Linked DNA regions of Homo sapiens. The protein of the gene in region 4 purifies or fractionates together with the protein of the main gene of each other region. This does not show direct contact. Each region holds a gene or a part of one and is shown on either strand. Other genes may lie near its edges.

The links.
Region 1: the proteins of CSNK2A3 (region 4) and HIRIP3 purify together in Homo sapiens (affinity purification with mass spectrometry; 2 studies listed by BioGRID and IntAct, with this or other methods). This does not show direct contact.
Region 2: the proteins of CSNK2A3 (region 4) and GRAMD1B purify together in Homo sapiens (affinity purification with mass spectrometry; 2 studies listed by BioGRID and IntAct, with this or other methods). This does not show direct contact.
Region 3: the proteins of CSNK2A3 (region 4) and OSBPL8 purify together in Homo sapiens (affinity purification with mass spectrometry; 2 studies listed by BioGRID and IntAct, with this or other methods). This does not show direct contact.

The regions. Positions count from the first base shown.
Region 1 is NC_000016.10:29,992,594-29,999,668, reverse strand, and holds the start of HIRIP3 (HIRA-interacting protein 3), read left to right. Parts: upstream 1-4,051; 5' UTR 4,052-4,063; coding exon 4,064-4,128; intron 4,129-4,205; coding exon 4,206-4,326; intron 4,327-4,451; coding exon 4,452-4,566; intron 4,567-4,825; coding exon 4,826-5,763; intron 5,764-5,860; coding exon 5,861-6,029; intron 6,030-6,111; coding exon 6,112-6,210; intron 6,211-6,298; coding exon 6,299-6,462; 3' UTR 6,463-7,075. Other genes in the region: INO80E (INO80 complex subunit E), read right to left, coding at 2,809-2,861, 3,052-3,122, 3,278-3,358. UniProt on the Homo sapiens protein: Histone chaperone that carries a H2A-H2B histone complex and facilitates its deposition onto chromatin.
Region 2 is NC_000011.10:123,601,251-123,608,274, reverse strand, and holds part of GRAMD1B (protein Aster-B), read right to left. Parts: intron 4,850-7,024; coding exon 4,734-4,849; intron 2,954-4,733; coding exon 2,797-2,953; intron 1,667-2,796; coding exon 1,477-1,666; intron 1-1,476. UniProt on the Homo sapiens protein: Cholesterol transporter that mediates non-vesicular transport of cholesterol from the plasma membrane (PM) to the endoplasmic reticulum (ER).
Region 3 is NC_000012.12:76,556,764-76,564,612, reverse strand, and holds the start of OSBPL8 (oxysterol-binding protein-related protein 8), read left to right. Parts: upstream 1-4,841; 5' UTR 4,842-5,216; intron 5,217-5,604; exon of another isoform or gene 5,605-6,041; coding exon of another isoform or gene 6,042-6,043; intron 6,044-7,849. UniProt on the Homo sapiens protein: Lipid transporter involved in lipid countertransport between the endoplasmic reticulum and the plasma membrane: specifically exchanges phosphatidylserine with phosphatidylinositol 4-phosphate (PI4P), delivering phosphatidylserine to the plasma membrane in exchange for PI4P, which is degraded by the SAC1/SACM1L phosphatase in the endoplasmic reticulum.
Region 4 is NC_000011.10:11,351,430-11,357,835, forward strand, and holds CSNK2A3 (casein kinase II subunit alpha 3), read right to left. Parts: upstream 1,822-6,406; 5' UTR 1,691-1,821; coding exon 515-1,690; 3' UTR 513-514; downstream 1-512. UniProt on the Homo sapiens protein: Probable catalytic subunit of a constitutively active serine/threonine-protein kinase complex that phosphorylates a large number of substrates containing acidic residues C-terminal to the phosphorylated serine or threonine.

The DNA.
Region 1 (7,075 bases), on a different chromosome or scaffold from region 4:
TTTCCTAGTTCAGTGCCTCTGCCTAGAAGGGCCATCTTTCATCGAACAAACGACTGCTACACCTATAGAAGCCGTTACCAATGTCTCTGCTCAGACAGACCCTTTAAGAAGCAGATTAAATGCCACCTCCTCTGTGAAGTCTTCCAGAATCCCTCAAGCCCAGTTAACTGCAGGCTCTCCTGGAACGCTCTACTCTCGTCATGGCTGCCCTCACACTGTGCTGAAAAGCGTCGTTTGCGAGTGTCTCCCTGGCCAGGGCGTGGGCCTCCAGGACGGGAGTGGGGCTCGCATCGCTGGCTCTTCCTCCTCAGATGCAACCCACTCTGGCCATGAACATGCTGGGTTCTCTCCCACCTCCTGCCCTGAATTCCCCTCAAACAGGATGTTAACTGGAAGCCCCTAGGGAAGGAAGAGGCAGGGGATGAGAGGCTACAATAAAAGCCAAATCTCCTACTATGACCTACCTGAGTGGGCCCCTGCCTATTTCCCCAACCTTATCTACAATCCTCCTATAATAACAAGCAAATGGGTATCATGCGTTCTGACAAAACACTACGTCCTAAAACGTGGCTGGCTGCCACATGCCAATCCCTGCCTCAGACCAATGTGCTTTTTTTTTTTTTTGAGACGGAGTCTTGCTCTGTTGCCCAGGCTGGAGTGCAGTGGCGTAATCTCGGCTCACTGCAAGCTCCGCCTCCCGGGTTCACACCATTCTTCTGCCTCAGCCTCCTGAGTAGCTGGGACTACAGGCGCCCGCCACCACACCCAGCTAATTTTATGTATTTTTAGTAGAGACGGGGTTTCACCATGTTAGCCAGGACGGTCTCGATCTCCTGACCTCGTGATCTGCCTGCCTCGGCCTCCCAAAGTGCTGGGATTACAAGCGTGAGCCACCGTGCCCGGCCCAGACCAATGTTTAAAGGCACCACGGAGAGAGGTGATTCTACGTGACATGGCTTACGAGGGCCTCACCCAGGAAGAGGCCCACAAATGCCTACCTTAGGGCTTTTTCAAACTGTGGGTCTCAAGCCATTAGTGGGTCATGAAATCAATTTATTGGTTTGCAACCAGCATTAAAAGAAGGGGAAAAAAGCAGTCTAAAAAGTGTCAGGATGAATTGGATACAGTGATCTTAAAAATGTTTCGTTAAACTTTGTTTTGTTTAACATGTGGGGCCCTGGTTATGATGTAAAATATAGTTAACTGCAGACAATATTCAAATAAAAGGACGAAAACAGTGTTCTCTCTCTTTCATGCCTCTGCTCTTCAACCAAGCCTGACCTGTTCTTACCTCAGGGTAGCTGCATTTATATTATTCTGCCGGGACAGCTCTAGCCCACTTCTTCACAAGATTGGTTTTTGTTTTTTTTTTTTTTTTGAGATGGAGTCTGGCTCTGTTGCCCAGGCTGGACTGCAGTAGTGCAATCTCAGCTCACTGCAAGCTCCACCTCCCAGGTTCACGCCATTCTTCTGCCTCAGCCTCCCGAGTAACTGGGACTACAGGTGCCCACCAACATCCCCGGCTAACTTTTTGTATTTTTAGTAGAGACAGGGTTTCACTGTGTTAGCCAGGATGGGGTTTCTTTCTTTTGAGACAGTCTTGCTCTGTCACCCAGGCTGGAGCACAGCGGTGCTATCATGGCTCACTGCAGCCTTGACCTTTCAGGCAAGGGATCCTCCTGGTTCTGCCTCCCAAGTAGCTGGGACCACATGTATACACCACTATACATGGCTAATTTTTTTTTAATTGAGATGGGGTCTCACTATGTTGCCCAGGATGGAAGGCTGGTTTCTTCTCTGGTCCCAACTCAAATGTCACTCTGTGAAAGGCCTTTCTTGAGTACTCCATTCAGAGGTTGCCTGCTGCCTGCTTGTGTGGTCTGCAAGCTAAGAAGGGCGTTTTTTTTTTTTTTTGAGACGGAGTCTCGCCCTGTCACCCAGGCTGGAATGCAGTGGCAGCGATCTCGGCTCACTGCAACCTCTGCCTCCAGGGTTCAAATGATTCTCCTGCCTCAGCCTCCCCAGTAGCTGGGATTACAGGTGCACGCCACCACACCCGACTAATTTTTGTATCTTTAGTAGAGACGAGGTTTCACCATGTTGGTCAGGCTGGTCTTGAACTCCCGACCTTGTGATCCGCCCACCTCGGCCTCCCAAAGTGTTGGGATTACAGGCGTGGGCCACTGCACCTGGCCAAGAATGGCTTTTAAGCTTTTAAACGGTTGGAAAAAAAAAAAACTAAAGAAAAATTTTTCATATGGAAAAATATGAAATTCAAATTTCAGTGCCTATAAAGTTTTATAGAAACATAGCCATACTCATGTATTTGCCTATGGGGTACGGCTGCTACTACAATGGCAGAGTTCAGTAGGTGCTTCAAAGATTGTATGTTGCAAAAAGCTTACTTACCATCTGGCCCTTTGCAGAAACAATTCATCAACCCCTGTTCTACTATAATCATTACCGCATAACTGTTTTCATTACCTTCAAGTCCTTCCTATGACCTAAAATTCTAGTCTATTGTCTTCATTTACTTATTCTTCCCAACTAGAATATAAATTACAAGAGGCCAAGGGCTTTGCCTATCTCTGCCTCTGCTGTATCCCCTGTGCCAAGCACAGTGCCTGAAACACAATAGGTGCTCAGTAAGTGCCTGAATGAAAGAACGGTGGAGGTGGAAGGCAAGCAACTAGGCTTAAGGACCACTGGGGGCTGCATCAGCCACCACTGCCTAAAAGGCGGGGGCCCAGGAAGCTTGCTAAGTACCAGGAACCATGCTCTCCACCAATTTTTGAAGACCTTGCTCACCCGAAGAGTCTTCATCCACGTTCTCGTACTGCAGAAGTCGGTCTAGGAGGAAACTGAGGGGAGGGAAGGAGACACGGACAGTGATTTTCCAGCGCAGCAATGTCCTCCTGGGTACCTGTCCCTCCCAGCTGGCCCATCGGATACTTGAAAGAGCCCATGCACTTGTGGCCCTACTCGGGGATGGGGTCCGAATGTAGATTTCCTAGGAAGCACATCGCCCTCCGCCCCTGCAACGTGCCTCACCTCTTGTCCCGGGACACCTTCAGTAATTTCCTTTGCGCTTTCCTCAGCTCCTCCTGGAAGCACTCGTGCTCCTGTATCACGGGCAAGGGGTGCGCTGGGCCAACGGTCCTCCGTGAAGGGCCCCGGAACCAGCGGCCGCTCGCCCCACCCACTTTACACCTGGGTAAACTGAGATCTTGTCCGCGCCAGGCCTCATCCCCCACAGCCTTCCCGCGGCAGCACTCACGTAGATGAGGAACTTGAGCTTCCGCTTCAGATTCCGGTATTTTTTTTTGTAGTCCACTTCGCCGTCCGCCGGCCCGTTCATGACCGGCCCGGGAGTGGCGCCCAGAGTCTGCCCTCCCGCTACCCCAAGCAGTGGCTGCCGTGCCGCTCCCGCCTCCACTTCCGGAGACGCTGCAAGGCTGTGCCGTCAGGACTACAACTCCCGGCGTACCCCGCGCTCAGGGGCGTCACCGCACGGGCCGACCTCCCGGGGGACACTGGGACAGGAGCGCGGCAGCCACTGCGCTGGGGATGGCGTAGCAGCGACGCGGTGACGCCACAAAAATGGCGGACGCTGGAAAGCGCCGTTCCTGACTCTAATGTACTTAGACACTTGAAGCCACAAAAGGATTTATCCCCGAGGTTCCTCATCTGCTCGCGAGGATGCCTTTTCTCTTCTGCCTTGCGAAATAACAGCAGCCTAGCTGTTGCCCGTGACCAGTGAGAAAGGCAGCGTCGCGGGCTGATTAGGTTTCACCCAAAGGGTGCCGGCGCCGAATTGGTTTCTAACGAGAACTTTTAAAATGATCCGTTCCAAAAAAGGGTAGGAGCCGCGAGACCCTCCAACTGCCCAGAGAAAACAAGTCTCGTCTGGCAAAGTTCTCGGCCCACGCGGTCCGCGGCCAAGGGCCAACGGTCCCTCGCCCCACGTTGCCGCAGCACTGCGCGTGCGCGAGCCGCTGTCAAACGCGCTGACGGAGGCCGAGAAGAAAAAAAGGCGGGAGCCGTCAATCCCGGGTTGAGCAAAATGGCGCGGGAGAAGGAGATGCAGGAGTTCACCCGTAGCTTCTTCCGAGGCCGCCCGGACCTCAGGTGCCCAGGGGGTTGGAGATGGGGTTGGAAAGGGCGCGGGTGGGTCGGGACTCCGTCCTGACACCATGTCCCTGCAGCACGCTTACGCATTCCATCGTGCGGCGGAGGTACTTAGCTCACTCGGGCCGCAGCCACCTGGAGCCCGAGGAGAAGCAGGCACTGAAGCGGCTGGTGGAGGAGGAGCTGCTGAAGATGCAGGTGTGCCGGGCCGGAGCCTGGGCCGCGGGAGGCGGAGGCGGGGCTTGCTGCTGAGGAGGAGGGGCCTGACGGGGCGCGGTGAGCGCAGCCTTGGTGCATAGTTTGCCCTCTTGGCGCACACACAGGTGGATGAAGCCGCTTCCAGGGAAGACAAACTGGACCTTACCAAGAAGGGCAAGAGGCCTCCCACCCCTTGTAGCGACCCGGAGAGAAAAAGGTTCCGCTTCAATTCAGAGTCGGGTTAGTGCTTCCTCCCTGCTGTGGGGGCCTTCTGCATCGTTGGTTCACTCAAGAAGCATTCACTGCGCATCTCTTATGTCCCCAGGCGTTAGATGAGGGAGCAAGGCTAGTGAGTCAGGAACCGGGAACAGCAAGTACAGATAGCTGTTTCCTGCTGCCCCTCCAACTGTCAGGGCAGGGCTCGAGGCAACCTATCCGAAGTGAAGGGAGAAGGGACAGGAGGAGCCTGTCTCAACCCTCTCTCCTCTCCATATTCCAGAGTCCGGCTCTGAAGCCTCCAGCCCAGACTACTTTGGACCCCCAGCAAAGAATGGGGTGGCAGCAGAAGTCAGCCCAGCCAAAGAGGAGAATCCAAGGCGAGCCTCAAAGGCAGTTGAGGAGAGCAGTGATGAGGAACGGCAGAGGGACCTGCCCGCACAGAGGGGAGAGGAGAGCAGTGAGGAGGAGGAAAAGGGGTACAAGGGGAAGACTAGGAAGAAACCTGTGGTAAAGAAGCAGGCACCAGGCAAGGCCTCAGTCAGTAGGAAGCAGGCCAGGGAAGAAAGTGAGGAGAGCGAGGCAGAACCCGTTCAGAGGACAGCAAAGAAGGTGGAGGGAAATAAAGGAACTAAAAGCCTGAAGGAAAGTGAACAGGAGAGTGAAGAGGAGATCCTAGCCCAGAAGAAAGAGCAGAGAGAGGAGGAAGTGGAGGAGGAAGAGAAAGAAGAGGATGAGGAAAAGGGGGATTGGAAACCCAGAACCAGGAGCAATGGCCGGAGAAAGTCAGCTAGGGAGGAGAGGAGCTGTAAGCAGAAAAGCCAGGCAAAGAGGCTCTTGGGAGACTCAGACAGCGAGGAAGAGCAGAAAGAGGCAGCCAGCAGTGGGGATGACAGTGGGAGAGATAGAGAACCCCCAGTGCAGAGGAAGAGTGAGGACAGGACCCAGCTTAAGGGTGGGAAGAGGTTGAGTGGAAGCAGCGAGGACGAGGAAGACAGTGGGAAGGGGGAACCCACAGCTAAAGGCTCTAGAAAGATGGCCAGACTGGGCAGCACCAGTGGTGAGGAAAGTGACTTGGAGAGGGAGGTAAGTGACAGCGAGGCAGGGGGAGGCCCCCAGGGGGAGAGGAAGAACCGCTCTTCCAAGAAGAGCTCCAGGAAAGGCAGGACACGAAGCTCCTCTTCCTCCTCAGATGGAAGTCCAGAGGCCAAAGGAGGGAAGGTGAGGGTGAGGAGGGGTGGGAGGCCACTATTAGGGAAGAGGGAGACCCTGCCTCAGGCCCAGCAGGCTTGGCCTTCAGCTGCTCTTTCCTTGCTAGGCTGGCTCAGGTCGCCGTGGAGAGGACCACCCGGCTGTGATGAGGCTGAAGCGCTACATTCGGGCCTGTGGTGCCCATCGAAACTACAAGAAGCTGTTGGGCTCCTGTTGCTCACACAAGGAGCGCCTGAGTATCCTCCGGGCAGAACTGGAAGCGCTAGGCATGAAGGGTGAGGCCCGGCGTGCCCTGGGGGCTGCAGGAGAGGGCCTTCCTGCTGGGGAGGAGAGAATCACCAGCTTCTTCTGCCCCAGGTACCCCTTCCCTAGGGAAGTGTCGGGCCCTGAAGGAGCAGAGGGAGGAGGCAGCTGAGGTGGCCTCCTTGGATGTTGCGAACATCATCAGTGGCTCGGGTAAGGGGTTTCCTCTCACTGCCCAGGAGCAGATAGGTGGGGTTGGACCTTCTCAGACATCTGATCTCTCGTTTCCCCTTTCCCCTAGGCCGGCCACGCAGACGTACAGCCTGGAACCCTTTAGGAGAAGCAGCACCCCCAGGGGAGCTGTACCGACGGACCCTGGACTCAGATGAAGAGCGGCCCCGTCCCGCACCCCCAGACTGGTCACATATGCGTGGCATCATCAGCAGTGATGGCGAGAGTAACTGAGCTCTGCCACCCCCAGGAGGGACCCTTGATACATGTACAAAGCATACATAGCACCCCTTGCCCTGTGTCTGTGGAACAGAAGCAGCTTCCTTCAGAGAAGACTGCAGCTCCCAAGGACACAAGCTGTTGGGATGCTACTTCTCAGCTTCACGCTGTCCCTTTAAGGTGTTTATTTTTTAAGACTCAATAAAGGAGTGTTTTTAATCACCTCATCAAATTTGGTCCCCCATTCTCACCTCCTGTATTTTGGGCCAGGAAACTGAGCAGTAGTCACTGCCTCCACCTCCTCCCCTGGCCTGGTTCCCTTTAATTTCCCCCGGGTTCCTGGAAGAAGTCCCTGCCTCCAGACCCTGTCATCCAACAGCCACCAGACCCTTTTGGAGAAGGGTGTGTGGCTCCTGTGCTGCCCGCCTACCCCGTGGCCCCTCTGCTTTTAGCCTAGTCTGATAACCTAATGCCCACTTGGGAGAGGGATAGAATGACTTGAGGGCAGCCAGTGCTTAAGCCTTCTCCCTTATGCAAACAGCCACTTTGTCCATGGGCTGTTAGCCTCAAAGGGGTGGGGAAAAGCCCATACCTCCTGGGCCAGTCCTAGCCCTCTAGGCCTCTGGCT
Region 2 (7,024 bases), about 110 Mb from region 4:
TCTAATCGACAACAAATTGTAGTTGTAACCCATGGCATAGGTCTGTTCGAGGGAACGTAGACTAATCTGGAAGAATCAGTGTACAGAACTGCTGCTAAGGCTGGGGCTGGTCCAATAGGCTGTGATCCCTAACTACAGTTCCATAAGACAGCCTATTTCTACCATGATGTCAATACCTACTCCCCTTTTTAAACTTAGGATTACAGCTTCATCATATAGCAAAATAAGAATTCAAATCAGAATGAGAGGCACACAGAGCAAGGTGTGGGAGGGCTCCAAAAATGGAGCTTCCTTCAGTCTCAGGGATGCAAAGCCCTTCTGGCACATCACTGTGTCCATATACAGAAGATTGCCAGCCAGGGAATTTCACCTGTAATCTGAATTTTCCAGCTGCTACAGGAGGATGCAAATGAGGATACAGGAGAGCTGCTAAAGCCTCAGTGCTCCCCCCCGAACCCTTGGCACCCCTCAGTCCCTAATTACTGCACCTGCATGGGTGGGTATGTGATCTCAGGAGGAGGCTGCCATTTCTGGCACCCCTAGGACCCTGAGGAAACCAGAGAACTCTGAAGTACCCTGTAGGGGTCAAGTCCTATGACTGCACAGATGGGTACTGCACAAGTGCAGCGCAGCGGGTATTCACACCTTAGTTTATGTGAAAGGCACCCTGGAGTTAGGCAGTATCTAACCCATGCAGTCACTTGTGCCAACCCTGGACTCTAGATGGGGGTGGGTAAACCAACCAAAAGTTAGAAAACCACTGCAGGTGGCCCCTGGGAGAGGTGTCCACAGATCCACAAGTGAGCACCGTGCTCATATGCTCACCAGTCATAACAGACCACTCACTCAATGGAGGAAATCCATCAATTGATTTCATGAATGCTGAGAATTTGGCTTCTCTCCATGGAAGGTAAGCAGCAGCATGTTCCCAAGGGAGGTTCTAGAAGCTAATCCTATGCAGGCATGAAGTTAGAAGCTACCTGCTTACAAAAATTAGAGAAACAAGGGAGTCTCCAAACCCTATTTGACCCAGCAACACCTTTTCTTCTAGCTGGGCCTAAATACCCCATGCAGCAAAAATTGCATTAACAAGTTTCGCAGCTATCTTGAGGACGTTTCTGTTAAAATCTAATTATTTCCAGGGAGCAGCTGACTGGCACCTTCCTTGTGGCTTATAAACATTGCCTAGACTTGCGTGTCTGTGAGGGTCAGGGTCGCAAGGCAAGCCAATGTCAATAGGGGGAACATTTAGTGACAAGACTAAATGACAGAACAAAGCATTATCTATGGGAGGCTCCTACAGCAAATGACTGAAAACAGGGATGTAAACTAATAACAGGTACCTTTTGTTAAGGAAGCTCTGCTCCCATCTCTCCACCAGGAACCTAGAGACTAACTACAGTCCCCACATAGAGATCTCCTTTTAGCCTTCAAAACAGAGCAAGGGCCACTCCAGACCCATTTTCAAATGCCCACCTTCATCGTGTGTGTCGGAAGAGTCACTGAGCTCAGTGGGGATGTCCTCATTGTCATTGAAGTCCAGTGAAGGGGAGTTCACAGGAGCGATCATCTCAATCTTCTCCCCCATGATGTTGTCAATGGCGAGCTCCTTTTCCAGGGACCCGTCTCCCTCCAGCGCCTCTTCCTCCAGGGGCAGCCCATCAAACTGGAGCCAAGACAGAGGAGTCACCCACCAGGGAAACCTGGTCTGGATCTATTCTCCAAAGGGAGATTAGGGATGCAGCCTTGGCAGCTCTCATACTCCCAGCTCAGCTGCTCAGGAGCGAAGTCAGAGTCAGGCTCCAAAGCCCTTCCCCAGAGCTGCCACAGAGGATGGGCAAACACAGTACAAGGACTACTGCACTTCTCACGCTCGCCATTCCAACAGCACAACAAGCTCCCCAAATGCACAGAGCTGGTCCCCACAGGCCCAGGCCCTTTCCTGGAGCCGCACCTGCACCATCCTGCAACAAGGTCAGCCTGCCTCCAGGTAGTACCTGTTTATCCTAAGAAGCTCGAAAGGCTTCATAAGCATTTTTTAAAACTCATTCTCTCATTAGCCCTGGAAGGGAATCGATACAACTCTTTACATTTTAAAGATAACCTCAGAGATGGAAAATAAAGACCAGGTATCCAATGAATAATGTTTTCATTCTGAAGGCAGGTGGTCTGATCCATAGCCTACTGAAATACAAGGCTCTTTGAGGGAGTCCTTTCCTGAAGAACCCTACCTGTTCTTCTGCCTGCCAGCACATGCCCTGACCCTCTTTCCTCATCAAGGTTCTACCTCCTCTATTAACAGAGTCCCACAGGACAGAGGTTCTCTTACACATTTTTATGGCTTCCATAAAGTCTACCACAGTGGAGAAATAAGCCACAATACGTATACTCAACAAATATCAACCAAATGAGTGGATAAACAATTAATTGTTCTATAGTTCTATATTCATGCATGACTTTGACGTCAGATCAAGGCAGTGAAAAAATACCTGGAATTGTTCTCTACCAGAAGGGCTGATCAGCAGCAGCCCAGCACAGTGGGCTTGAAATGGTTTTCATCTGCTCAGAAGTCAAACCCAGTCTTGTACCCCAGGCACCTAGCCCCAGCTCTGGACCCCGGGCTATGCCACTAGAATACGGAGAGCCCATCTGCTCCAGAATGCCTCCTTGAAGAAACTGACAACAATGTAACCAATCTCCTCTCTACCTGCTCCCCAGATTGGGTTCCCAGTGAACTATGCTAGGAAACGCTGGCCACAGGACTGGGGGTAGAAGTCAAAGGCTGACTGCCCATACCGAGACGGGGGCCTCACTGCTCCCTGTGGATGTTAGTGTGCTGTTGGTGATGGATTTCTTGGGCAGCTGTGGACTGGCATCTGGCTTGGTCTCTATGCTGCTCTTGGATGAGCTGTCATTCACTTCATTCTCTTCCACAGGGATCTCTTCACAGTATCTGAGAGGAGACACCAGTGAGTCCACATTACCCTCAGTGGTTCAAGATGGCCAACTATTCTAAGAATCTCAGACCTTTCTATCCATCCATATCTATGAGATTTCCTGCTTCTTTGCTTTGTGTATGATCTTCCTCTAACCAAAAATCCCCTGCCTACCCCATTGCTCTTCTGAAATCTCCTTCATATCCCACCCCACCCCTCCCTGCCCCCCATGTAAAATTCCTGGCTGCAAACTCACCTTTCCTAGGCAGCCTCCTTAGAGTTATCCCTACCTAACTGAAAGGATTATTTGTCTTAAGCTATTTTTTTTCCATGGGTGCCCATCCTATTTGAAGCCTCTGAATCAAATATCTGGGTTCTGAGCATGCATTTCCTTTCCCAAACGGTGACGAAGACAGGACTCTGGACATGAGCGCTCCTTAAGTGGCATTGCCCAAATTCTTGATGATAACTAGAAAACTTCCCTGCATTATACACCTAGAAAGAAAACCTCCTTGAGATGAAGGTGGGTGCTCGTCGAGGAACACTTCAGGGATGCCGCTGTAGCCTCCTCTAAGGGAGCAATCATCAGCCTATCATCATCACCATCATCTGACCTGTACTTAACAAATCCAGATGCTTGACAACTCTCCGGAAATCCTTATGTGCATTTTGGAGATAACCAAATGGGTATTCATAGAGGTTAAGCGACAACACTATTATTTCGACTGAGCCCAGACCTAAGCACAACAGACATTCAATGTTCTTTTCTTGCTTTTTTCCCTGTATGCCTCTTGCACGACCACCAAGCTTGCAGCTAGCTACCCTTCCACCCTCAAGCATGCTTTGTGCCAGTCTACAGGCACATCTTCCCATCTTGCTTAACCTATCGACAGCATGTGATACAGTGACAATACCTTCTGCTTCACTTCCTTCCCGTGGCTGCCAGGATAGGAAACCTTCCTAGGGCCTTCCTCCCTCACTGCATGTGCTTTCAAGCTCTCTTCAGCTGCTTCTTTCCCTCACTGAGTGCTCCCAGGCAGTCCTTGAACTCCTTTTTAGGTTCACCGAGTCACTTGAAATTTCAGCTAGTCTCATGACTATCCACTAATAATTGCTGCGTTTATGGCCTCAGCCCAGGCTTCCCTGTGCACTCCACACTCCATATCTAAATGCCCACTTGGCATCTCCATTTAGCTAACAGGCATCTCAATTTCAACTTGCCTAAAACTACCCTCCTGATCTTTCCCCTGAAACCTGCTTTGCCTACAGTACTGTCCATCTCCGTTTGGAACAATGCCATCCTTCTGGGCAGTAAAACCGAAAAAATCTGAAAGCCACCTTTGGTTCCTTTCTGTTCCATCAACATATCCTTCAAAATCTATTCAGGAACTAAACACTTATTGCCACTTCTCCAAACAACCACCATCCCTCATCTAACTATCTAAATTACTCACCAGCCTCTTCACGGGTTTCCCTGCCTCTGCCCTGGTTCCCCTTTAATGTATTTTCAGTGCAAAGACCAGAGTGATCCTGCTGAAATGTTAAATCAGACCTTAGCAATTATCTTTGCCAAACTTTCCCATCCCACTCTCAGTAAAAGCCAACCATAAAGATGGCCAGGCCCTTAGGCTCTGCCCCCTCGAGCTCCCTGACCTCACCTGTGACCACTTTCCCTCCTTCATTCCACAGTTCATTCCATGGCTGCACAGGCATGTGTGCTGTTCCCTCTGCCTGGCAGGTTCTTCCTGCAGGCACTCGCACGGCTGCCTCTGGGCAGCCGCCCTTGGCCTCACTCACCCCATTGTGTTGAAGTCGTCGTCAGGGGGCACGTAGTCCTCGTCATCACTGGTCAGGCCCAATTCGTTCCCATAGCACTGGTGAACAAAGTGCCAGAGCTCCTTGGGACACAGAGGCTTCAGGGGAGAAAAGGAACGACTGAGCCTTGCTCCCTCAGGTCCCCCGACTCTGCACAGAGGCACTGAGCCGGGCTGGTTCCCCTGGAGAAGAGGAGAAACTCCTCTCTCCTTAGCTGAATGAGAGGCGAGCCACCACCCCCATCTGCCTTGGGGGTCTCAGCAGGACACCAGTCTTCTGCCTAGGAATGTGGACTTTAACAAAGCCAGGAACTGGCCTTTCAGTGCCCAATCCCTCAACAGAGGTTTGTAGAACGTGACCAACTGGCTCCCAGAGGATGGTAACTGTCTCACCTTTTGCTCTTATGGAAAAGGTCCAGCACTGAGTGGCATAAACCCATGTGACTCTGGGGCCAAGGGGATCCCAGAGCTTCTGATTAGCACTCTGAATGAATGCCCAGAGGTCCCCTGACCCGGTGCCCCACCACACTGCACAGAAATCTCCTCTTGTATTAACTGTGGCCTTACAGACCCTACTGGATCACTTCCAAGAATGAGGTTCGACCTCAAAGGTGGCCCATTCCATAGCTGGACAGTTCCTATGGGTAGAGTCTTACGTTCCCACAGTTTTAGGAACCTTACAGGTCATCTCACCTAAGCGTGTGACTACCCAACCTGAGGTGGAATCTGTTTGCCTGCAGTTCTATGCATTAGTTCCAGTGTTTTCTTATTTCACCGGGTGCCTATGTGTCCTCCCAAAAAAACACTGTTCTAAGAAAAGTTTGTTCTCATTGGGTTCAGAGTCTCCAGAGAGAGGCAAAGGGATGTCAAAGAACTAAGATCAGAGGCAGAGACCATGAATGAGTCTCAGACTGGGAGGAAGGGGAGAAGGTGGCAGGGATAAGTGTGTGGAAAGGAGGGCAAGGGCATGAAGAAAAACAGAAGCAATCATTATCTTTAAAAAAAAAAATCCCATTTCAAAAATGTTTGCACCGATAGACTTCCTAAAGAATTTGGGTGCAGCACACCAACATGGCACATGTATACACATAGAACTAACCTGCACGTTGTGCACATGTACCCTAAAACTTAAAGTATAATAAAAAAATTTAAAAATATAAAAAATAAAAATTGAACAATATTCCATTGGGAGTAAAAATAACAATAATAATAATAATAATAATTTGAGAGCTCCCAAGCCCACAGTTTCAGGTATGGTTTAAGAAGCAGGCAGCTGGCAGAGTACAATGAGCTAGGATTCCAGCTTTCTGACTAAGGAGAAGTGCCTGGAATGGCAGATTTGGGGCCCTGACTCTAGGCTGGCAGAGTTGGGGGCCGCAGCTCTCTATGCTGGACCTCATAGTGCCTGAGGGAGGTATCACCTCCTTCTCTCCTGGACCTCCCCCTCCTATCTCTGGCCTTTATGTGCAACATCCACCCTGCCTGGGACAACATTCACCCTGCCTGGGACACATCTGCCTCTCTGCCAAACCATATACTGCCCTGCTCCACCCTTTGCTTGCTCTCTGCAGACTTCTCTGACCAGCGCCACCTGGCTTGGCTTGGCCAACCACGATCAGGACAAGCACAGTTAGCAGACTCTCCTCGGCAGGCCCAATTCTTACAATTATTTGTGAGGGCATTTGCGAAGCATATGAATGACCCTGTGTCTTACTTAAAAATGACAGCAGCTGTGAACTGAAAACTCAAACCTGCCAGTAGAGACTAAAACACATAATCATTTTACTATTACTGATGGCAAGTGAAGGCAGAGGACCACAGCTCAAATAAGTTATCAGGAGTGATACTAGGGGTACAGACTCTCAGAAGAGAAGAAACTCTAAATAATAAATCCACTCAATTTTCTTATGCAGCCATTTGTTTGGGCTAGAGTCAAGGCCAATATATGTATATATTTAAATACACCCATGTCAATCATACACACACACACACACACACACACACACACATAAAAATTAATCCTGGGGGAAACATTATGTGTGTGTGTCGGTGCGTTTTCTCCTACATCTCTTTCTCTGGCTTGGAGACAGTTTCTCAACATCCAACTGCATCTGAGTGGGAACTTTTTTTTTTTTTAATTGAAACAGGGTCTTGCTCTGTCATCCAGGCTGGAATGCAGTGGCGCAATCACAGCTCACTGCATGAAGGGGTGGCTTCATCTGTGTCTCTTCATAGTTTCATTTAAACACTCAACTAGTCAATTCGTGGTGGCTG
Region 3 (7,849 bases), on a different chromosome or scaffold from region 4:
GTATTTGCTTCTGCCAGGTTTCTGAGAGCATTATCAGTCAAAAATTCATAATTACGCCTAGGTACAGTGGCTCATGCCTATAATCCCAGCACTTTGGGAGGCGGAGGTGGGCGGATTACCCGAGGTCAGGAGTTCGAGACCAGCCTAGCCAACATGGTGAAACCCCTGTCTCTACTAAAAATAAAAAAATTAGCTGGGCGTGGTGGCACGTGCCTGTAGTCCCAGCTACTCGGGAGGGTGAGGCAGGAGAATTGCTTGAACCTGGGAGGCGGAGGTTGCAGTGAGCTGAGATCATGCCACTGCACTCCAGCCAGGGCGACAGAGAATCCCTGTCTAAAAAAAAAAAAAAAAAAAAATCTTAATTATTAGCCTGAAGTTTTTGGGGACCACCCAGCTAGTATGAATTCAAGCTACGTTTTTGTGTGAGAATTGGATTGCAGTTCCAAATTCTCAGATACGATTTTGCTTTTCCCCTGTCCACCAGGTGCCAAGGTTTAAGACGGCTAATTTTCTTTGTAGATTCTGGGGGATGGGTGCCTATGCTAGTAAGCAGCAAGTTTATTTCTAGTATATCCTTACATCAAATTAATAATCCTTGGAATTGCAGTTGTTTGTGTGTGTGTGTGTGTGTGTGTGTGTGTGTGTGTGTGTATAATGCAGGTAATGGGTTTTGTGTCTTTCTTACAAGGTCACGAAAACCAATGCTCCTAGTAACTGGGTTTAGCACATGCCCTTGAGATAAAAGTTGGCTGACTCTGCTAAACTCTAGGTTCCTGCCTTCATTTAGTTTTTTAACTTAATAATTTCTTACCCTATTGTCAGTTAATCAATATATTTAATAAGATTTAAAAAATGTTTTTTCCAGGGATTTTGTTTTCAGTGTGACAAGTGTGAACTAGTCCTTGATATTTCTAGAAACAGAATCCTATATTCTCTTTATACTTTACTATCCAAATTTTCCTCAAGGGATATTTAAGACAAATAATACTAAACAGAAATATTTAAAATCAGTATGTAAATATCTTACATGCAAACATTTTGCATGCAAATTTACAGATTTTATAAAGACTGCTTCTTAACATAAATTTTAGGTGGATATTTACCAAATAGCTGGTTGACTAGTTTGTAGATGTCTGTTATTTATTTTATTAAATAGACAAATATTATTGTTCCACAGTACATTTAGCCTTTGACTCATGAGTTTGTTGGCTCAAATTCACTTTAGATGATTTGCAAGATTATGCTACGCAACAAACAATCTCAAAAATATTTGTGATTCACAACAACAAATATTTTTGTTTTACTCTTGTTTCACATCAGTAGCCGTATGTCAGGAGCTGCAAGTCAGTTGCTTCAGTTCTGTACAGGGTGAGAGTTTCAGGTCTGCTCCATCTATTTTCTTATTCTGAGATCTTATCTGGAACATACCTTTCTCATGGCAGGTGGCACAAGAGTAAGAGATTGACCTGAATTTTGCAATCAAATTTAAAGCCTCTGCTTTGATTTAGCATTTAACATCTGCTCACAAAGCACTGGCTAAAGCAAATCACATGACCAACAAGAATACAAGTCTTCAAAGCTGTGTTGAATACCTTATTTATGGCTGAGGTTGCTCTTAATCTAAATTCTCTTCCAGAAAATGAGGATTTTAGTCTAGAATCCTGATTAGTAATTGTCAGCAACATAATTGTCTAATGGGATAAGCCAAATGGAAAAAAGCAAACAACCTCAAGCAACATCTCTGTCATTCTAGGTCAGGGTTGAAATATACTGTGGGAAAGGCTGTCAAGCCTGTCAGTGCTTAAACTAATTTGGAAAGAACTTCCCATTCTTAGAAATGTATAATTAATAAAGCAGTAGGCAAAAGAGATGAATTCTCATTGGAGTTAAAATCGGATCGTTATAATAAAAAAGCTTTATTTCAAAATGTCATTCTTAAAATCATTGTAAGAGTAGCAAACTTGCAGGGCATCTCTGGGAGTTACTGAATATTTTTCAGTTACAGTGCAGGATCACATATTAGTTTCTGTTTATGTTGTCATTACATTGAAAATGCTAGATTGAATTATCATTCCTGGAATCACAATATCAGATTTGAAAGGATCTGAAAAAATGATTTTTCAACTGTAGTGGATTAATATATTTTTGTGTTGCAATCAGTTGTTAAGTATGTCAAAATCATTAGTTATTCATGACAAGTAACTATTATACTAGTGATAATCAAAGTAGAGAAGATTGTGAAAGATATACTTACATTTGTTTTGCAATATCTTCACTTTCAATTACTTGCATTAGGACTTTCTTTTTTTTGAGTGGAGCTGAAAGAAGTTAAACGTAGGCTGTCAGTAATTTGCATAATCCTGAGTATACCGTGTCTGTTTGTTTCCAATGTGATTGCCATCCACCGGGAAAAAAAAAAGGTGGTTTAGTATCATTTCTCAAACAGCATGTGGTCCTACTTGATTGGAACTTGAAATGCAGGGAGTAATTTATCTAGTCATACATCTCATTAGCTAAGTCTGTAACCTAGGCTTCCTTGCTTCCAGTACATTGCTTTTTCCAACAAATGATCAAATTTTCAAAAGCCAATGTATGAAATTGGGGCTGAGGCAGAAGAGAATTAGGCAAGGCAATTTGCCACCTTTTTCTAATCTTTAGTCTCAGTTTCCAAAGTAAAATAAAAGTACCAGAAAAACGGGGTCCAGATGGTGTATTTTGCATATTATCTATGCTCTAGGAACATTCTTTTCCAAATCTATTTGATTGCAACTCACAGTAAGAAATTGTTTAAATCACAACATAGGACATACTCTCACCTTCCACCATATTTGAAACAAAAAGTTTCAGGAAGCAATTTTTGCCCTTACTAGACATTATGCACTCTGGTATTTTATATTGTATTACATCCTAGCCTATTTCATATAAAAATGAAATTGATTTTTGAGTTGCAGGTTGAAAAACATGCCTCTAGAAAACAGGAGACAAGTTAATCTGTTAACAAACTCCAAAGTTACTAGCTTTGCTGAAATAATGTCACAGAATAATAAACTTCCTTCACATTTATTTGTACTACAGTCTCTCAGGCTTCAGAACAGAACCTGGTAGAATCTTTTCCTCTTTGGAACACCAGTTCATGACAATATCTCAGAGATTCTAAGACTCGTTGTTTCCCAGTTCATGACAATATCTCAGAGATTCTAAGACTCGTTGTTTCCCAGTTCATGACAATATCTCAGAGATTCTAAGACTCGTTGTTTCTGACATGTTTACATCTCTGAATTCAAGATGTGTCTCAGGCCGGGCGCGGTGGCTCATGCCTGTAATCCCAGCATTTTGGGAGGTCGAGGCGGGTGAATCATTTGAGGTCACGAGTTCAACACCAGCCTTGCCAAAATGGTGAAACCTCCTCTCTACTAAAAATACAAAAATTAGCTGGGCATGGTGGCGCATGCCTGTAATCTCAGCTCCTTGGGAGGCTAAGGGAGGAGAATCGCTTGAACCGGGAGGCGGAAATTGCAGTGGGCCGAGATTGCGCCTCTGCACTCCAGTCTGGGAGACAGAGTGAGACCCTGTCTCAAAAAAAAAAGGAAAAAGATGTGGCTTAAAGGTGCCTTACATATCAGCGGTATGGCATAGTTTCATTGGCAGCCTTTGTTTTCTTTCTTGGGTAACATAAAACAATGTAAGTCTATGATTTTTTTAGAGCTGCTATGAAATATATTAATAATAATTATATAGGCCAAACTCTATTGCTTATTCATTTCAATGTATCCAGCTTATCAGAATGCCTTCTGATTTCTTGTTAAGAAAATGTAATGAGATGAGAATAGCTTAAGAAAAAAATCCTTAGTTCTGGGCTACAAGGGAAAATGAGTTATGACCCCAATTTAATTATTACAGAAAGCTTTCTCATTTGCCTTCATTGTGATCAGGGTTTGAGTATGATCTTTATTCTACCTCCCTTACTTCTGTATAGTTAGGATTTCATTAGGCGGCTAGAGGGTTCTTCGGATCATGGCTAAAAAAGAAAGCAAAAGGTTAAGTCCTAGAGTTAAGGAATTAGGAAAAAAAAATTAAGGCATTAGAAAAAAAATCAAGAATTAGGCTTTATTTTAAAAAATGGAACAAACTGTCAAATTCCTGCGTACCCGTTTAAACTGTCACCAACCTAACACACTGTAAAACTTAATGACTGTAAAACTGGCAGCAGGATCCTGAACATAACAAGGAACAAAAATAAGTTTGCTAGGCTGTTTTCATCCCAGCATGATTGAAATACACCGTTTCCTCAAAAAAAAAAAAACCTCTAATGAGGAAAGCAGTAAATTAAATGCCACGGTTAATGTGCCACTAGAAATAGGAACAAGTAGTTTAGTTACCGAATGCTTCTTAGGCCATACACTCTACACCACGATGCGTTCTTTTTTCTGTTTCGCTAAAGCTTTCACCAAGCCTAAGGCTGGAGAGGGGTCCTAACTGAGCCCTGACCAGACCAGGGAGCCCTACTGTGCAATCTCCTCAGGTTAGGAAGGGCCCAGTATGACCGGCCCAGAAGGCCTGGCCGATCAACAGGCGCTGGGCCGACGGTGGTGGGCTCGCTTCCTGAGGCTGCCCTTGGGCATGCGGAAGGGGACTGGCTGGCGATAACACCCTGGCGAAGCAAGGTGGACAGTGACTCCCGCCCGGTTCGAGCCCGCCTAGCAGGGGAAGCAACTCCACCACCGCCTCCGCGCACCGTCACGTGACGGGAAGAGGGCGTGGCCGAAGCCCGTGATCCGGGGGGCGGGCGGGGCAGGGGGAGGGCACTAGAATGTGAAGGATCTTCGCGGTTCTGGGTGCCCAGAAAGGCGGCGACGCGGCGGATGACAACATTAGGCCGCGACGCGCTCCTGGCCAGGCGGCGGCTGTAGTGTTAGCTTTGGACGCCGCAGTAGCCGCTGCCGGTAGCAAGCCGACTGAGGGAAGGTGGGGGTCCGCCCGGGCTGGTGGACCTCGGGGCCGAAAGTTCCCGCCCCGCTCGGGGGCTGAGCCGGCAGTGCCTCCGCGGCCGCTGGGCAGCGCCCTTCGTCCAGGCTCGCGCCCCAGCTGCCGCCGACGACAGCGGCCGAGAGAAGTTGGGGTCTGACTAGACGCTTACGGGGCCTCGGACCCCGGCGCCGCGGCGACCTCGGAGGAACCGGCTCCTTGCGTCCCGCCTCCCTGGGAGCTCCGCACGGGTGAGTGTTGCTCCATTCCTGAGGTTGGGGTGCTGGGTTCGCACCCCTCAGGGCGACTGCGCACCCTTATTGCCACGTTCTGAGCTCGGGCTGTCGGGGACTCCTGGCCACCCCCGCCGAGGAGTTCTTTGGCTCCTTTGTTCCCTTTTGGAGTAGGGGGATTGGAAAGGCTGGCAGGGTGGAGTGTTTAGGGGCCCACAGTAGGTGCATCTGCAGCCTTACAAAAGCCGCGGCAGGGGAACGGGGGTGGGAGGCTGTTGGAGCATTTCGACCGCCCCGGGTGTCTGTCCCTCCTGAAGTTTGATAGGTTGATGGCATGGGCCTCGTTGGGAGCCCCCGCGCCCAGGAGAGCTGGCGCTTTGTCGCTCGGTGCGGTTAAGGCGAGGCTCCTTCTTTCCTGTGACAGCCCCAGAGAAGGCTGTGCCGCGCACCGCAGACCGCACCCGCCTTTGCAGAGCCAAGCGACACGGTGTTGTTCCTCTAAGCCTCAGTTCTCCCGGCCTTCTTGTAACGTAGGAGGAAAGCCAAGCCTTTGCTGTGCTTTTAAATTTAATGTTTGTTTCTAAGCCCTCTCTCAAGAGTGGAATCAGGTTCCAAGGAGCTTCACAGGCAGCATGCTTTAGGTTCATTGAACCACCCACTCAAGACTGGCTGAGGCGAAGCAACAGTATATGCAGATTTTCCATTCACAAAAGTCATTTAACACTCTTCTTTATGAGACACATCTGCGTTGCAGAACGTAACCTAATTTCATTTTATTTAAATGCTTTCTGAAATAATAGGTAACTTGGACAACGTAAACAGATGGGTAAACTTTAACTGATAATGTAAGTATATATGCATTAAATAAAAAATTTAATGATGTTTTTGCCTTTCTGCTGCTAGAAGACTTAAATGACGTCTGAGTAGTAATACAGTGTCTCCTGCATGGCAGTTAAGTTTTTCCCAAAATTAGTGCTGCTTTTGAAATAATCCTTTAAAACAGTTTTTGCCTCCCTTCGTATCTAGAGAGAGCAAGAATTGTGGAGAATCGTGGGTGAATTGATTGTTAAATTTTGCTAATTTCCTAGAGTTTCATCTAAACTTGATTTTGCTGAGAGGCTATGATCAGTTTCTATGCTTGCTAGAACCTGTTTTGCAGTGAAATTATTAAGATCATGCTAGTTTTATAAAATAGGTTGGAATAGGAAAAGTAAGGCCATGCAATTTAAAACTGTTCTCTATAAAAGTACAACTAATTTCAAATGTTTGTTACTTTTATTTTTTTTTAATATTAACCGTGTATGGAGTGACTATAATATACCTGCTCAAAGGGCTGAGAAAGGAAATAGATGAAACTTAAGCTACCTTTTGGGTCTTTAATTATGGACATCAAGTTATTGCGGTCACATTCCATGTCAACCGTTTGAACAGCAATACCGTGTACACAGGTGCTTAGAAATGCCTGTTTAATTAAAAATGGCCATGGTTTATTTCTCTTTGATTGAATCATAATAGTTATTGAATCTCTGATCTGTGGAAAGATGCTACTGTATTTTCCTTAGAATGTTACTGCATTTTAAAGACAGTCAAATATGTTTTTTATAACACATTCAGGGTACTTATACATTTGTCAATATTCAGTTCCTTGGTTCATTTAAAAATTGGAAGCCTTAGAAAACACTTTGGGGATAAATTTACAATTGTGTATAATGAATTTATGTTTTAGTTTGCTTTAAGAAAAATGATGAAATTATGAATTTGTAAAATATGCATTACAAAAGGATTTTTTTTTTTTTTTTTTTTAAGACTGTCTCACTCTGTATCCCAGGCTGGAGTGCAGTGGTGCAACTTGGCTCACTGCAGCTTCTGCCACCTGGGTTCAAGAGATTCTTATGCTTCAGCCTCCTGAGTAGCTGGGATTACAGGTGCGTGCCACCATGCCAGGCTAATTTTTGTATTTTTATTAGAGATGGGGTTTCACCATGTTGGCCAGGCTGGTCTCCAACTCCTGGCCTCAAGATCCGCCCGCCTCAGCCTCCCAAAGTGCTGGGATTACAGTCATGAGCCACTGTGTCTGGCGGATCTTTTGTTTAAAAGTATGAATTGCAGAATTTTAACCAGTGTTAGTACATTTCAACTTGGCTTTGGTTTGTAAATAATCCTTCAAAAGTAGATTACTTGAATTAAGGCATTAAAGACAAAGAATTGATACAGTACATAGATCTAGTTTTCTAATATTAATTTGGAAAACTTTTATCCTAATATTATCCTAATAACAATGCCTGAAATGTCATGTTGTAATGTTTGTATTATATTGAAAGTTAAAAACATTTATAGCAATGTTCTTGGAGCATCAGGCAATTCAAAGAGGACATAGGTCCTGCCTTAATCTTACAAATAATGACCTGCAAATAAGACAGAAACACAACTTGAATAAAAAAGCCTTTGAGAGGCCAGGCCCGGTGGCTCACGCCTGTAATGCTAGCACTTTGGGAGGCTGAGGTGGGCAGATCATGAGGTCAGAAGTTCAAGACCCGCCTGGCCAACATGGTGAAACCCCGTCTCTACTAAAAATACAAAAAAATTAGCTGGGCGTGGCAGTGTGTGCCTGTAATCCCAGCTACTTGGGAGGCTGAGGCAGGAGAATCGCA
Region 4 (6,406 bases):
GAGGCCAGGGCTGCAGCCAGACTCTTCCAACCCTTGTAAGGGGACACAAAATCTAGAAGGATCTGACCCTCACAGCTTCCCGATGCACAAGGCTGGGAAGGTAAGCTAGTTCAAGTCCAGGCATATCTATGGAACCAAAACCCTATAGAAGCCCCAAACTCAGAGACAGAAGTATTAGCAAGTTCCAAATCAGGGTCCCATTGACACCTGCGCTATCTACTGTAATCACTTCTTTGTTTTGAAATAGGATCTCTGGCCCCCATTACTGTCACTGGTGCTGCCAGAGAATGACAATGAGCTTAAATGTCATAGGGATTTGGGGAGCAATTTTCTTTTTTTTTTTTTTCAGCCTATTATAATTTTTTTTTATGACTGAACTACTATAAATCCACAAGCAACGGTTCAGACACGTTGCTTCTGAAGTGTTTCACCCCTCCCCGCCAGGCGCAAGCTGCATCAAGGAGGGGGTGGACTCCCCCACCTCTGCTCAGGCATCAGGAGACAGATAGGGCCGTTACTGCTGAGCGCCAGTGGCAGCTGGAACAGGCATCCCAAGGGGGTTGGCAGCAGCAATCACTGGTGAGCCTGCCAGAGGTCCAAGGGGTGAAGGAGTTGGCACTGAAGAAATCCCTGACATCACATTGGCGCTGCTGACGGGCGTACTGCCCCCTGGCATGCTAGATGAACCCATTCGAGCCTGGTCCTTCACAACAGTGTAGAAATAGGGGTGCTCCATGGCCTCTCTTGCAGTAAGCCGTGACTGGTGGTCATATCGCAGCAGTTTGTCCAGGAAATCCAAGGCCTCAGGGCTGACAAGGTGCTGATTTTCACTGTGGACAAAGCGTTCCCATCGCTTTCGAGAGTGTCTGCCCAAGATATCATTGAAACGTGGATCTAATTCAATGTTGTATTTGTCAATATAGCCATATAAATCTTCTGTCCCCAGAAACTTGGCTATCCTCACCAACTGATCATAATTGTCACGTCCATGGAAAAATGGCTCCTTCCGAAAGATCATACTTGCCAGCATACAACCCAATCTCCACATATCCAAACTATAATCGTACATCTGATAGTCTACAAGTAGCTCAGGACCTTTGAAGTATCGGGAAGCAACTCGGACATTATATTCTTGGCCAGGATGATAAAACTCAGCCAAACCCCAGTCTATTAGTCGTAGCTTTCTGTGCTCATGATCAATCATGACATTATGGGGCTTGACATCTCTGTGCATAATTCCCATGCTGTGACAATAATCCAGGGCCTTCAGAATCTCATACATGTAAAATCGAATATCATAGTCTGTTAACGTCTGGTACAATTGCTTGAAGTCTGTGTTGTTTACGTGTTCAAAAACCAAGGCGGGGGTTCGTGACACAGGGTCTTTTACAATGTCTGCCAGTGTGATGATGTTGGGACCTCCTCTCAAATTCTCCAAAATCTTTATTTCACGCTTAATTTTCTTCTTTTTTACTGGCTTGAGAATTTTAACAACAACTTTTTCATTATTTGTGATGTTGATGGCTTCAAATACTTCACTGTATTTACCTCGGCCTAATTTTCGAACCAGCTGGTAGTCATCTTGATTTCCCCATTCCACCACATGTGACTCGTAATCCCAGTATTCTCGAGGTCTGTGTGTATTAACATCTGTGTAAACTCTGGCCCTGCTTGGCACGGGTCCCGACATGTCAGACAGGTTGGCGGACAAAGCTGGACTTGATGTTTGGAGATCTGGCAGTCACTGTGTTCAGAAGCAGCTTGGGGGTAAGACCTTGTTTCAGACCTGTTTTCTTCACACTGTGGTGGAAGCGGCAGCGGCTGTGGCCGCTCTCCCTTCTGCTCACACAGACAATATGGCGGCGATGGAGTGGGGAGCAATTTTCTAAAATCCAAATAAAAACCTTCCCATCTCTAATCTGAGAGTCATTTTTATCAGCTAACTGGGCTCATCTATTTACTCAGCATATTCAGAGCCCTTTTTGGGGGTTAAGTCCCTTTCAATTGCTGTGAGGCACCGTCTCCTTGTGGACATGCTTGTGCTATCCAGCTGCTATTCAAAGCACATCTCCTGGACCATGTTTAATTTATACTTTCCTATATGAAGATGAACCACTTACTCACTTAAAGTATTTCTTTTTTTATGTCTCTAATCAGTGGCTGTTTCTTTCCTCTCTCTGAAGCTTAATCGAATCAGAAACAAATCCCACACATATGAATGGCTCATTAGCATGTCCCAGTCAGATTCAAATTGGCCGTCCATACCAGATGCCCCCAAAAGGATAACACTGGCCCAAAGAAGGACTCTTTAAACGAGTGTCCAAAGGGTGTTGCCATGATAAGCCAGGAGGGTTCTTTCTGAAATCCAGGGTAGATACACTCTGTCATTCCCAGCACCATAGAGCCAACTGATGGCAGGTAATGGATGTGTCATTGAGATGGGGTTGGTGGGAGGCAATGTGGCCAAGCCTGGGGAGCAGACATCAGAGGAATGTCTGGTGTCTATGTGTCTGGCTCAAGCATCATCCTCACACTTGGCTCAGTGGGGCCCTTTTATCAAATGATACAAATGAGGCTGAGATGCTGAACATTCTCTCGCTCAGAAATGATATTTGTTCTAAAGAGCTTCCCCTCTTAATCAAATGAAACTCAGATTATAAACACTGGTATGCTACATCTTCTCTTAAAGGATTTGCTCTTTTCATAGACATCAGAATGAATCGTCAGCATGGGCATCATCACTGGTGTCATCTCTGAAAGTCACCGATAGCAAACTCTCATTTAATACAGATTTACAAAAGAGATCAGCATACTGCAATAGAGTAGAACTGAAGGGAACCTAACCAGGACCTCCCTTCATTTCCCAGGTGAGCAAACTAAGGTTCAGGGTCACAGGATAATTTAGAAGCACAGTAAGATATGGATCCAAGAGCCTGCCTTTTGGAAGACAGGAAGTCATTATGGTTCAGAGCATAGCCTCTGGGGCCAAACAGTCTTGGTGTCAAGTCCTACATTTCCCATTTGCTGAACTGGTGACTTTAGGCAATTCACTTCACCTTCCAACACTCAGTTTCCTTGTCTATGAAATGGAGATAAAAGTGATAAATTCCAAAGATAGTTGCTGTGAGAATTAAATGAAGTAATACACAGAGACAGTTTATTTCATCACCTGGAAGAAGTTTAGAGGCCCCTAAGTATCAGCTATAATTATTATCACTATAATATTCCACTGATGATAAGATTCACTATTGCTATACCACAGCTTTTCGGGACAGGGGAAAACACACTACATTCCTCTGAGCTCAAGATTTATATACCCAAGTGCCTACGTCTCACCTTCACTCTCATGTGTCTCAGGCATCTCAACCTTACCATGTCCAAAACGAAGTTCCCGATTTTCTTCCCTGCCTCCCCATCTGTCCCTTAGTCTGCCCCTCATCCATCTAATAGCCGAAGCCTGTAACCTGTAATTCATCTGTAGCAATGTCTTCTTCCTCCCTCTCCACATCCAATACATCGGCAAAAGCAGACAGTTCTACCTCCTAAATATAGCTTGAATTTAATCACTTCTCTCCATCTGCACAGCCAACATCCTGGTCCAAGTCCCTATTATTTTTGTGTGGGCATCTCCATCCAGAGCCTCTTCCCTGGTCTTTCTGCGTTGTCGTGTTGCCCTTCAATCCGTATTGCCCTCCAATCCACTTTTTAAAATTATACATCAGAGCATGTCCCTCCTCTGCTTTAATGCAGTTCAGCAATTATTTACTGAGCACTTACTATGTGCCAGTCTTTGTTGTAGGAGATGGGAATCTTACCACAGAACAAAATATAAAAAATCCCTGACTTTCTGATACTTACACTGTGTTTTTTCTGTTACAGCACTCCCTATGGACTGAATTGTCTCCCCCTTCCTCAAATTCATATGCTGAGGCTGTAACTCCCCATGTGACTATATTGGAGATGGGGCATTTAAGGAGGTGATTAAACATGCACAAAAAATTCTCAGTAGAATGACCATATGTTCTGGTTTGCTGGGGACTATTCTGGTTTATACCTAGTGTTCCACTGTTATTAGTAGCACCCCCTTTCACTCGCAAAAGCTTCTAGTTTGGACAGTAAATTAAAATTTATTTACATATTTATTATTTATTTATATATGCCAAATGTATAAGGTCCAACCTGATTTTAGAAACACTGAAATCCCAAATAAGTATCTGTCTTAAAATCATGGTCTTACTAATCTTTTCCCTCCCCTAGTCCATGATTTCTCTATATTACTACAATCCTAGTGTGGTGAAAATTAAGCAAGTCATCAAGACCCTCACCTCCTGATGTGCAGCATTTGAAGCAGGCCTGAGGAATAAAACAGAGCACCCCACCATTCAGTGCTCCAGAGACCAGAGCCCTGTCTCTTGAACTTTCCCAAACTAGACAGACAGAAAGAGAGAGAGGCAAGACCTAAAGGAGTGAATGGTGTTCCTGGGCCATTTACACCAGGGGTTAACTCTTTATTTTCAGGACTGACTTTGTATACAGGTAGGCTTTGTTTTATAGAAAAACTTGTGTGCAGGGGTAATTTCTGGATACCAAACTTTATAGAAAAACTTGTGTGTAAGGGTAATTTCTGGATACCAGCACCTACAGCACTAGAAAAAAATGTGCTCACAGGTACCCTGCCCTTTGCATTGCTTTACAAAGCCAAGAACATTTGTATTTGGAGATGCCCCTGACCCCTCCTTCTGCAACTTCAGATTTATGAATATCGGATCTTGTCCAAGGAAAACCACAGCAGTGTCAGAGGAGGAGGAGAAGGAACCCTTGCTCAGTTTGTGGCAGTTCTTCTGAGGAAATGATTCTGGCCTTGCTTGGTGGTCTCTTCCAGGAAAACTAGAATAACAATGTAATGGTGGCCAAGAAGCTACCTTCCAGGGTCTGATACCGACCAGCATGCAGACTCAGCTAAAGAAGAACAAAGAACAAAAATGGAAACAAAAGGGAGACAGAAAATGACTCTGGGGAGCTTTAACATACATTGTGAGCTTCCAGGTTTCTTTGGCTTTTGTTTTTGCTTTTTTCCAAAATTCAGGAAATTAAACATTGATACATGACTATTATCAAATCCCCAGTCTATAATCAAAGTTCACCAATTGTCCCAATCAAAGCCTTTATAGCTATTTTTCCCCTTCATCCAAACTTTTTAAGAAGGTAAAAATTTCCTTCAGGTTGACTCCCCAAATCCTTCATCAATTGTTACCTCGTTTGTGCATGTTATTAATCTCTCTTTTATACAGCTCCCTCATTGAATGCAATTGAAAAAACCAAAGTGTGAAGACCATTCCTGAGTAAAATTGTTCTTGGGCACTCTCCTTCTGCTCCCCACCATTTCTAGCTAATCACTTCATTATGTACTTTTTAAATTGCTTTGTTCTGTAGGGATTAATTTTGCACTTATCTTCACTAACCATAAAACTTTTACAACGTACTTTTAAACTGCGTCTACTCAGCTGCTGGTTTGTAATTGCAAAGAGTCACTCCACGGCTGGCTGGTGTGCTAGGGGATAACACGCAATAGCCACGGAGCTTCCTGCTCCATGTTTTCAGATGCCTTCCTGGAGCCGCTGGGTATGGGGCAGACCAATTGGTTCTAGACTGGCTGCTTGGGGTACCGAAATGTCCTTGTATATGGAAATCACCAGCTAGGGAACACCCTCAAATCGCAGATGCTTTGGCCTCAGAGGCCTCAGGTTGCTCCGACCTCAAAGACCTTGGGAATTTCAGGCCCTACAGTTCCCAGGAGAAGGTCTGTCTACAGCTGACCACCTAGAAGGCAACAAAATTTCAACTACTCTCTCAAGGTCAAGTCTGTACTTTCTCAAGGCTCAGGCACTTGCCCTCTGCCTGCAAGCAGGCACTAGATTCCCAGTCTTCAAGGAGTCCCTCTGCCTCCCTTTCTGGTCAAATACAATCTCCAAGGAGTCCCTCTGCCTCCCTTTCTGGTCAAATACAATCTCTAAACTCTCCGCCTTCCATCAATCTCCACCCACTCCCTCCTTAGACCTTTGAAATCTGTCTTCTATCACTTCCCCTTGACTCCAACTATTCCCCCCAAAGCCTTCTTATGGCTGTGTCTAATGCCTTTTCTCCACTTGCTTTCTCAGAGCACAGGCTGTTGGTTCACAGGCTTTGGACAGAACTGTGTTTAAATCCAGGCTCCTCCACTTTTTCTCTTGGGACCAGGGCAAGTTCCTTAACTTCTCTGAGCCTCAGTGGCCTCATCTGTAAACCGGTGACAGTAATTCTGGTTTCCTGTGATTCTTGGGAGGGGTAAATGACATACAGCATAAAACTCACTAGAATATAAGTTCTATGAGGGCAAACCTAAGTTATCTCATTCATCACTGCATAT